2 separate regions of the Homo sapiens genome follow, and region 2 is linked to region 1. The links come from fine-mapping of genetic effects on plasma protein levels. Region 1 holds a variant in brackets. A gene starts in the other region. All regions are shown on their reverse strands.

What was found. PIP is the posterior inclusion probability: the model's chance that the variant is causal. Protein levels are from antibody-based Olink assays in UK Biobank. Linkage for the fine-mapping came from a reference panel and not from the study's own genotypes, which makes the PIPs less certain.
Region 2: it holds the start of FCRL5, and the variant in region 1 is fine-mapped to the plasma level of the FCRL5 protein (UK Biobank, PIP above 0.99).

Annotation. Positions count from the first base shown.
Region 1 is chr17:16,937,355-16,942,735 of GRCh38, reverse strand. It overlaps TNFRSF13B (TNF receptor superfamily member 13B), which reads left to right. Exons shown (of 5, transcript NM_012452.3): 4 at 2,225-2,410; 5 at 2,939-3,655. The coding sequence ends at 3,189. Among named protein-coding and RNA genes, the nearest start is that of TNFRSF13B, 32 kb to the left of the region's middle. RefSeq lists silencers at 3,523-3,572, 3,583-3,632 and enhancers at 3,418-4,258, 5,056-5,381. The variant C/T (reference allele first, on the strand shown) is at 3,059.
Region 2 is chr1:157,549,326-157,554,706 of GRCh38, reverse strand. It overlaps FCRL5 (Fc receptor like 5), which reads left to right and starts at 2,192. Exons shown (of 17, transcript NM_031281.3): 1 at 2,192-2,375; 2 at 5,127-5,147. The coding sequence starts at 2,345.

The sequences.
Region 1 (5,381 bases):
TTCCTCCTTGAATCAACGCCGTTCATTTCCGCTTAGTAACAACCTGTAGCCTGGCATTCTGTCTGTGCTCTGAGGGCTGGTAGCGTCTCCCCTGCTCATGCCTCCAGGGCAGTGTTTGCATTTGATTTGAGAGGTGAATAGGAGCAGGTAAGCCTTGGATATGTGGCACCAAGTTTGCAGGTCCTGGGGTCTTTGCTTTCCTCCGTTAGGCCTCTCTGAGCTCTGGGCACTGGACAGAAGGACAGCCACTGACTGGCGGAGTGACACGAACTCACCCCAAGTTCCCATCTCCCCCCTGTAAATGTCAGAGTGACACTGATGACCCCTAAGAGTCCTGGCAGCTCTGTCACTTTATGAGATTCCTGAATCTAAAAGCGTGTGTGAGGAAGACGGGCAGTGCCAGCCCTGGGGCCGCTGTGTGGCCCGCGGGCTTGGAGCACCGGCCTGGGAATTGGTGAGACCGGCTCCCGGGTGCAGGTCTAAGACCGAGAACAATATCTTAGACACTCAGTTTTGTCATCTGTAAAATGGAGTGTGAACGGCAGATGCTGTGCAACGCAGTCCAGCAGGTCCTCAAAAAACAAAACAGAGCTATTATGTGACCCAGCCATTCTTCTCCTAGGTATACACCCAAGAAAATGGAAAACATCCATCCACACAAACATGTGGATGTGAATGTTCACAGCAACGTCATTCACAATAGCCAGAAAGTGGAAGCAACCCAAATGCCCATTCCCTGTTGAATGCGTAAACAGATGTGGTCTGTCCATTCCGCCTAAAGAGAAACGAAGGTCTAATACACAGCACGGCAGGACATGGTGGACCTTGAAAACTCAAAGCCAAGTGCAAGGAGCCAGGCATAAAAGACCACGTGTTGTATGATTTCATTAATATGAAATGTCTGGAATAGGCAAATCCACAGAGACAGAAAAGAGATGAACAGTTGCCAGGGGCTGGGAAGAGGGAATGGGGAGTGACTGCTGATGAGACAGGGTTTCTGTTTGGTGATAAAAATTGTCTCCAATTAGACAGTTGCCATTGCTGCACAACCTTGTGATGTGCTAAAAGCCACTGGTTGTACACTTTAATACAGCAAATTTGATGGTATACAAATTCTCAGTATTTTTAATGGGGGTAGTTGTCTGCCATCAGAGCGGGAAGATGAAGGGGGTGCTGTAGGGGAAGTGCCCGGCACGAAGTGGGACTCGCTCTTCTTGACGTGTCATCTTAAATCTGGCTCATCTGTCTTTCCACCCAGCGCCTAGAGGATGCCCAGCTCCAGGGACAAGGAAGAGCTTTTGGGATAAGGAGAACTTCCAAGGGGAGGGCTTTCACCTGGGCTGAGTCTGTCTCTGGCATCCAAACCTGGAGGCACAAGTCCTGAGTCATAGGGTGGCCAGGTGCCCTGATGCCCAAAGCCCTCCTGGTTGGCACCTGCTGTCCTGGTCTCAGTGTAACGTCGCCTGTCCTACTCTCAAACACAGTGGGCCCTCTGTGTCGTGCGACCCATGTCTGTGGATTCAACCAACAGCAGCTGGAAAATACTCAGAAAAGATAGGGGATAGTTGCATCTGTACTGAACCTCTGCAGCCATTTTTTCTCATTGTTATCCCTAAACAATACAGTATAACACCCTTCTACATGGCATCTATATTGTATTTGGTATTATAAGTAATCTAGAGATGACTCTAATTGTATAGGAGGATGTGCATAGGTTATATGCAAATGCCAGGCCGTCTTGTATCAGGCACTTGGACATCCGCGGATTTTGGTATCTGTAGGGGATCCTGGAACCAGTCCCCCATGGATACCAAGGGACGACTGTAAACGCTCACTCAGGAAGCTTTCTCCTTGGAGGAAGGGCCCAGTTCAGGATGCACAGAGACATGCTCCCTGGAGCATCGTCTGTTCGTCTGTCGATTCACCCATCAGCCCATCTCCAGCGCTGTCCCAATTACAGCCCTAGCAAGTGGAGACAACAAGAAGGCCTAGCTCACGTTTCCAGCTTTGAGGCCTTAGAAAGTTGCTGCCAGGATGGGGGAGTGGATCAACTTCCTCCAGGATCCAGAGAGCATCCCAGCAGCCTCAGGGTCAGAAAAGGAGCCCAGCCTCTCCAGGAGCCAGACAGGCTCACAGCAGGGGGATGGGGGGATGTGGATTGCTTGAGCCTAATGACGGGAAGAGAAGAAGGCACTGCAGAGAGGGGTCTCATGCTGTCTTGCAGCTCTCCCGGGGCTGAAGCTGAGTGCAGATCAGGTGGCCCTGGTCTACAGCACGCTGGGGCTCTGCCTGTGTGCCGTCCTCTGCTGCTTCCTGGTGGCGGTGGCCTGCTTCCTCAAGAAGAGGGGGGATCCCTGCTCCTGCCAGCCCCGCTCAAGGCCCCGTCAAAGTCCGGCCAAGTCTTCCCAGGGTGAGTGCATGAAACTGGGGTCCTCGCCCTTCTCGCTGCTTGGGTGACAAGCCTCGGGCCATCCCTCGGTCCTGTCACTGCCCCTGCTTCTAGGTGGAGAGGCCCAGGGCTCATCCCTGTTACTTGCTATACCTTGATAAAATCAGGTTAAGACATCCTGGCAGACAGATAACTGGGAGAGTGGCACCCGGGAAGGGTGGGTGTGGGGTGCCGGTCTTCAGGTTTGCCTGGGCCCAGGATTCTCCAGATGCAGAGCCTTCAGGGCTAAGCCCAGGAGGAGGTGTCCCCTTGGGGGGCGTGGCAGGCTCGGTGCTGGACAGAAGTGAGAGCCAAGAATTGCCTGCCCACCCCTGCCCCGGCACAGGTTCTGGTCAGCAACTGGCGGACACTGACACCTGTCTGGGGGCGTTCTACGCTGGTGATTGCCCTTAGCTCCTGGGTCGGGGGAGAGTGCGGCTGCCCACACCGTCACCCCTACCCTAGTGCAGGGCCAGGCCTGGCCCACGCCCTCCACTCTCGCCTCTGCAGATCACGCGATGGAAGCCGGCAGCCCTGTGAGCACATCCCCCGAGCCAGTGGAGACCTGCAGCTTCTGCTTCCCTGAGTGCAGGGCGCCCACGCAGGAGAGCGCAGTCACGCCTGGGACCC[C/T]CGACCCCACTTGTGCTGGAAGGTGGGGGTGCCACACCAGGACCACAGTCCTGCAGCCTTGCCCACACATCCCAGACAGTGGCCTTGGCATTGTGTGTGTGCCTGCCCAGGAGGGGGGCCCAGGTGCATAAATGGGGGTCAGGGAGGGAAAGGAGGAGGGAGAGAGATGGAGAGGAGGGGAGAGAGAAAGAGAGGTGGGGAGAGGGGAGAGAGATATGAGGAGAGAGAGACAGAGGAGGCAGAGAGGGAGAGAAACAGAGGAGACAGAGAGGGAGAGAGAGACAGAGGGAGAGAGAGACAGAGGGGAAGAGAGGCAGAGAGGGAAAGAGGCAGAGAAGGAAAGAGACAGGCAGAGAAGGAGAGAGGCAGAGAGGGAGAGAGGCAGAGAGGGAGAGAGGCAGAGAGACAGAGAGGGAGAGAGGGACAGAGAGAGATAGAGCAGGAGGTCGGGGCACTCTGAGTCCCAGTTCCCAGTGCAGCTGTAGGTCGTCATCACCTAACCACACGTGCAATAAAGTCCTCGTGCCTGCTGCTCACAGCCCCCGAGAGCCCCTCCTCCTGGAGAATAAAACCTTTGGCAGCTGCCCTTCCTCACTGCATTGTGGTTGGGTCTTTGATGAACTGAGACATCTTGTCTATCACTTTCCTGGGCATCAGGCTCCACTGAACGCTGCCCCCTTGGTTTGGGAGGCCCTGTGGTGCCCCCATCTCACCAGGCTCTCGAGGAAGCTTGTGACCTTGGGTTGAGCCCTAAGCAGCCGGGTACCCACTGGGGCTCTGCTTCTCTCTTTCACTAAGAGAGAGAAAGAGACCAAAGAAAGGTCTGCAGGGAGGGTGCCTGTGCAAACACCCAGGGAACCAGGGGCTTGAGCCATCTTCATTTCCTTACAGACACACATTCCCTTCCATGCCTCCTTAGTAAGGGCATGACGCACAGTGTGTGTGTGTGTGTGTGTGTGTGTGTGTGCAGGTGTGTGCATGCATATGTGTGTGCATGTATGCGTGTGCATGTACGTATATGTGTGTGCGTGTGGATGTCTGTGCATGTATGTATGTATATGTGTGTGTGTTGTGGGGATGTGCAGTGGACAGGAAGGGGAGGGCAGCTGTAGCTGAAAGCTGCGAGTCTCTCTGGAAAAAACATCAAGATTCCCTGGACCACAGCAAGAGAATGTTTTCATTTGAGTCCACTTTTTGTTAGCATTTAAAGCTATATCTTGAGTAGCATGTAAACCTTAAGTAAACTATTCTTAGAAGCATTTTCACAGTAAGATAAATCCATAATAATGTACATTGAAATTATGCACCCTGCACCTCCTAAAATTATCTTGCAAACCTGCACCCACCAAAGGATCCCGTAGCGCACTTTGGGAGGTGTAGACAGGAAGCCTGGGGCTCCGTCGCTCATTCCATCTTTTCACCAGCTGTGGGCTACCACGCTGCATTGGTTTGCTTGGGCTTCCTTAAAGTACCACAGACTGGGCAGCTTCAGCAACAGAATCTCACTGTCTCACAGTCCTGCAGGCTGTAGGTCCAAGATCAAGGTGTCGGCAGGGAAGGTCCCTTTTCAGGGCGGTGCGGGAAGGCTCTGTTCCAGGCCTCTCTCCTGGCAGGTAGGTGGCCTTCCCGGTGTCTCTTCACCTCGTCTTCCCTCTGTGTGTCTCTGTCCACATTTCCTTTTCTTATAATAACGACACCAGTAGTTAGATTGGGGGCCCCCCTACTGACCTCATTTTTCATTTTAACTTATTTCTATAAGATGATATCTGTAAATAAGATCACATTCTCAAGCACTGGGGCTTAGGACATCAACACAGGAATTTCGGGGGACAAATTCAACCCATCACACAGGCCGTCCTCGAGGCCACCTCTGCGTCATCTTTGTCTACAGGCAAGTTGGCATCTAAAAAGTGTCTGCCCAAGACATGCGTCTGGCCCATGGTACAGCCAGTCCACACGGCCAATGGTGAGATCCGGGTGGCATTGTTTCCTCACCGCCATGCCTCACGCAAGCAGCTGCCTTCTTACAACAAGGTGGACACAAATCCCAGAACTGGCGCAGACGCTTGCTGGCTGTGGGTGAAGTAGCCCCACGTCAGCGTCCTGCAAATATGCGGCTTAGAATGTTACGGCTTGTGTGAAAGATATGCAGATTTCTATTCCTTCCGATCCATGGTTTCAAGTTCTGCTCGTCTGAACCCAAGGGGCTCTGTAGGTGCCTCTGGAACAGCCGGGGTTTTAGGGGTGTTGAAAACACAAGGTACCCAGGCTCAACCCCAGCTTCAATCACACAAATAATCTTGTGGTGGTGTTTCTTTGGTCA
Region 2 (5,381 bases), not on the chromosome of region 1:
ATAAAAAACATATCAATAACCTAAGGATAAACCTACCAAAAGATATACTTTCCAGAGGCAAAGCTATAGAAAATTACTGAAAGAATGTCAAGTTAACCTAAATAAATGAGGGGATATTGTATGTTTATGGATTGGGAGACTAAATCTTTTCTAATTTATACAAATTAACTTATAAATCCAATGCAATCCCAGTTATTAAAAATCTACTAGGCTTTTGGGGAGAGAGGGGACAGGAATTGACAAGGTGATTTTTAAATGTATAGAAAAATTCAAAAAGCCAAAAATAGCCATAACAATTTTGAAGAAGAACAGCATTTTATGACTTAAACTATCAGTTAATAAGAGTTATTATAAAGCCACAATAATTAGAAGAGTGTGGTATTGGCATGAGGATAGACAAAATAGACTAATGGACAAGAAAGGAGTTTCCAAAAATAGACCTACATGGCTTTTTGTTTTATAACAAAGGTGAAATTGCACTGTACTGTGGAAAAAATCAACTTTCAATAAATAGGGCAGGATAAATTATCTGTATTTAAGTTAAAAGTGAATATAAACACTCAAACTGTACACAAAAATCAATTGCAATGCTCTTATAAATATAAAATAAATGGTAAAAAATAAAGTTTCTAGAAGATAACCTGGGAGAGTATCTTTATGATCTTGGAGTAGACTAACTTTCTTAGAAGGGATGCAAAAATCTCTAACCACAAAGGAGAAGACTGATAAACTGGACTATGTCAAAGTTAGAATGGTTGTTCATCAAAAGGCACTATCAATGAGCAAAGAAGCAAGCCACAGATTGAAGGAAGACATTTGCAATACATATATCCAACAAAAGGTTTATATTCAGGGTTTAAAATAACTACAAAACAGGAAAAGAAAGACTGAAAGTTAAGAGAAAAATGAGGAAATATTTGAACAGAGATTGCACATAAAAAGGATATCTACATCACCAATTAGACTATGAAAAAATGCTCATTCTCAAATTCACCAGAGACATACAAATTAAAACCACATTGAGATAATTCTAGCAGAACGGCCAGATTTTACTAGATGACAATACCAATATCAGCAAGAATTTTAGAACAATGATAACTCTCATACATTGGTTGGTGGGTGTGGTGGGAATTGGCACAACCACTTTGGAAAATAATTTGGTAATACTTCCTAAACTGAATATATGCATACCTTATGAGCCAGGACTTCCACTCCCAGATATATACCCAACAGAATTATGTGCGCATATGCCCCAATAAATGTATACAAGAATGTTCATAGCAGCACTATTTGTTTTAGCACCAAAAGTAGGTAAAGATTCTGTGTTCCCTTTGAAGTTCTCCTCTTAATCTCTATTCACCCCTGTAACCCCTGTATGGTTTTCTTGCCTCAGGGTGCAGTGGGTCAGATGTGACATAATATACCTAAGGTGATGTGCATTTGTAGATATAAAATTAAATGCCCCCTTAGGAAGACCAAGGTATGGGCCCAGAGAGAAAGGGTGAGAAAATATTTGAAAGAAAGAAACTGGCACTCCTCGTGGCAGCTAATGTCTTAGGAACCTCTGTTGACCAGTATACCAGGATGGAAACTTGACTTTTAGAAAATCATAAGAGCTATACATTCACCTGGTAATTTTTTAAAAAATCAAACGGTACAGAAATACATAAAATAAATTGTGTTCTTCCCACCTATTGCTCCTCAAACATAATCAATATTTTTGTGTGTACTTTCCAGGAAAAGAAGAAAGTATACTTAAAAGAGTTGATGTACACATATATCCTATTTTTTATATTTACCCAATGGGATAATACTACAAAACCAATCTATATCTCACTTTTATTCTCTTCACATCAAACAAGGTGGTCTTCCCTTCTTGGCATGTTCAGATTTACCTTATTCTTTAATGATTGCTTGTCACCATACGGATGAATCAGAATATTCTTAAACAGTCCCCATATCATGGTTTTTTGTTTTGTTTCCAGTGTTTAGGCAATAATGAATGCTACAATAAACGTTCTTATAGTACTCTCTTCAGATACTTCCTTCAGGGTAATTTCCCAATAGCAAAAATGTAGGGTCAAGGGTATTTGATTTTTTAAAACCTTAACTTTTTTTTTTCTTTGATCATCGGGTAGGAAACTGTGATTAGCAGCTGAAGACGGGTACTCCCACTTCCTTTTTTCAATTCACTAATGCATTCTGCTCTTTTTGAGAGCACAGCTTCTCAGATGTGCTCCTTGGAGCTGGTGTGCAGTGTCCTGACTGTAAGATCAAGTCCAAACCTGTTTTGGAATTGAGGAAACTTCTCTTTTGATCTCAGCCCTTGGTGGTCCAGGTCTTCATGCTGCTGTGGGTGATATTACTGGTCCTGGGTGAGTAAAAGGGCTCACCATGGGCCCTGGGTGGGATCGGGACAGCTTCTCTCTCCACCGCAGGCCTGGTCCTTTCTTGGGGCTCAGCCCCTGCTGAGAGACTCTCTCCTACATTAGGAGACTGTATTTTTGAACTTTACTCTGTAGCTCAGGGCTTTCTCTTGAGGCTGAAGAAAATGGCCACAGCTGGAAGGAATTTTCAATCTTACAGAGTAGGAAACCACAATAACCACAACAATTAAAATTTCATTTATTTTTTTCTTTAAAAAGTACTTCTTAAAGTCCAGAGAATGTTTCATGTTTGTTTGTTCATATTGTCTTACTCATAGAAGAGCCCACTCTCCTCTCTGCAGAGGAGATGTATTTATTCCTTGTATGACAAGGCCAGATCCTGGTCCCCAGCATAAGAGGCAAGGTTTCTAACGGGAAAGACAGGTCTTTCTCTTGTACATAATTGCAAACCACTGCAGCAATTGGCTGATTAAGAACATGGGGTGGAGGAGGTCGCAGAGGCGTAGGTGGACAAAGCAAGGATAAATCTAAAGCATATGACTTTCTCTTTGTCCCTGTGGGTGTACGTAAGTCTCTATCAACTCATATGTGCGAACTGGTTGATTTTTACTAAAGGTTAAATATTATAATTAAATATGTTTATTTATTTGTTCAGCAAATGTGTTTAGTAATATCTATGCACAGGTGCTGAGCAATTAGAGTCCATAGGAGACACTACGTCTATGTTCTGGAAAGTCATGACATAGAAGGGCTCCCAGCAAGGCCAATGTACTTTCAAGCAGCTATGCAACAAGCTCCCAGTTAAATAATTGTCCAGGCAAAGTTACCAATGAATGCTGTAGGCAGATAATAAACTGTATTCAAAATAGCTAGTAAAGACTTCATGAAACTTAGAGGTGAGTAGGAGCTAGAGGAGCAGAAATGGAGCAGGCGTGATATAAGAAAAGAGGACCTCACAGTTGGAAGGTGCATGGACTATAATTCCTGAAGTAGGAATACATCTCAGTGTGGCCCCACACAATGTGGGTAATGGCCAGGTCCTGAGCATGAGAGGGCAAAGTTTATAACATGGGCTCTGGGGTCAAACAGGATCTAGGTTCAAACTTCATCTTGCCACCTACTGGCTACCAGATTCCTGGTCTACAAAATGCAGTTAATCCTAGTGCTTACCTCACAGGATTATTGACATGGTTATATGAAATAACCTACGTAAATGCAGACCATATAGAAACCACTCACAAAAATATTAGCTTCATTTAAAACAATGCAAAGATGAAGGAAGCCAAAATATTCAGGTGAATGGTGAATAATTTGTTGTTCTCAGTAAAACACTTAAGTTTGGATAAGTCTCCAATAGCCTCATGTGGACAGGGATGATTTGTCTCTCACACACTCCTGGATTTCTATTGCCTTGCTCTGGAGTATGATTGGCATTCCAAAAATCTGTTGAATAAATAAATCAACCCATATGCAGAATACCTACTCAATTGATAAACCTGCCAGTTTTGTGTCCTCTCTCTCTTCATTACCCATTTCTCAAATCTCTATCCTTCTATTCCTATATTATTAACCTAGTTCTTTAATTAATTCATTATACAACACAAATATATTTAGTGAACATTAAAGGAATATCTTTTATATGCCATTCACCGTTATAGGTCCTGGAGGATATATGGTGAACATAAGGAAAGTCCTAGGTCTCATAGAGCTTGCATTATAGAGAAGGGAAAATAAACAAGCAGATAATGAAGATAATTTGGATAAATACTCTGACAAAAATTACACATTACCATCTCTTGGGCTGAGCATCAGGTCTAAATAATCTGAGCATCAGTTGATTGTTTAAAAATTAGGCATGATGATAATGAGCCCTTGGATTCAATGATCTCATGAAAAGAGTATAGCCTGGAGTCTGGTGCCCAAGGGAGGCTTAATTCATGTCCATTTCCTTGCCCTGCCTTCTAATCAGTCTCCCTGCTTCATATTGTCCCATTAAATTCTGTCCACTGACAGAGTGCTCCATCAAAGTCTGAAATTCTAACCTTGTCAATCTCCTCCTTGAAACCATTCCATGACTCCTTATCACTTTTATAATAAAATTAGAACCACTTACTCAGGCCCTGCATGCTTCTCTGGTCTTATTTCCCCCAACACTCCCAGTTCCTGAGCACCAATGTCATTTCTCCACTTCTGTGCCCTTTCTACCTTGAAAGGTAGAAATCGCCTCTTACCACACACAAATGCTAACATCCACCTGCAGACTCATGTTCTCACTCACAGTTTTGTGAAGTATCATCTCCTTCAGGTACCTTCAAGGATCCACCCATCCTGTTCAACACATGTACACACAAACACACACTCTACACACACACATATATCCTACACACTGGGCTAGTGGCCCTTCTGCCCCCAACATACCCCATGTGTATTTCTGTTATTGCACTTACACCCTGTGTTATATTATTTTAAATCGTGTTTCTGTTTTTCCACTAGTCAACTTCTTGATGGCAGATACCATTTTTAAAATTCATTGTAGAAGTCCAAATACCATGCCATATATATATGTATATATATGTATATTTATGTGTATATATATACATTTGATGAATAATTATTAGAGTTTTTAAATGAATTTTTTAAAGGGACAAGTAATACATGCATGGGTAAAAAAGGGAATTATCTTCTTAAAACAAAATAATCATGGTTCTGTGCTCATCTCTGGCTCTTATTTTTTTGCAGCTCCTGTCAGTGGACAGTTTGGTGAGTTCTCCTGTCTTTGGCTCTTCAGCGTCTCTGGTTAAGAGTGTCTCTTCCTAATAAATAGAAAACATTTGTGATGGCTGCCTGAGATCTCCAATATCTCCTGTTTTCTTTCCTTTTTTTTATTATACTTTAAGTTTTAGGGTACATGTGCACAACGTGCAGGTTTGTTATATATGTATACATGTGCCATGTTGGTGCGCTGCACCCACTAACTCGTCATTTAACATTAGG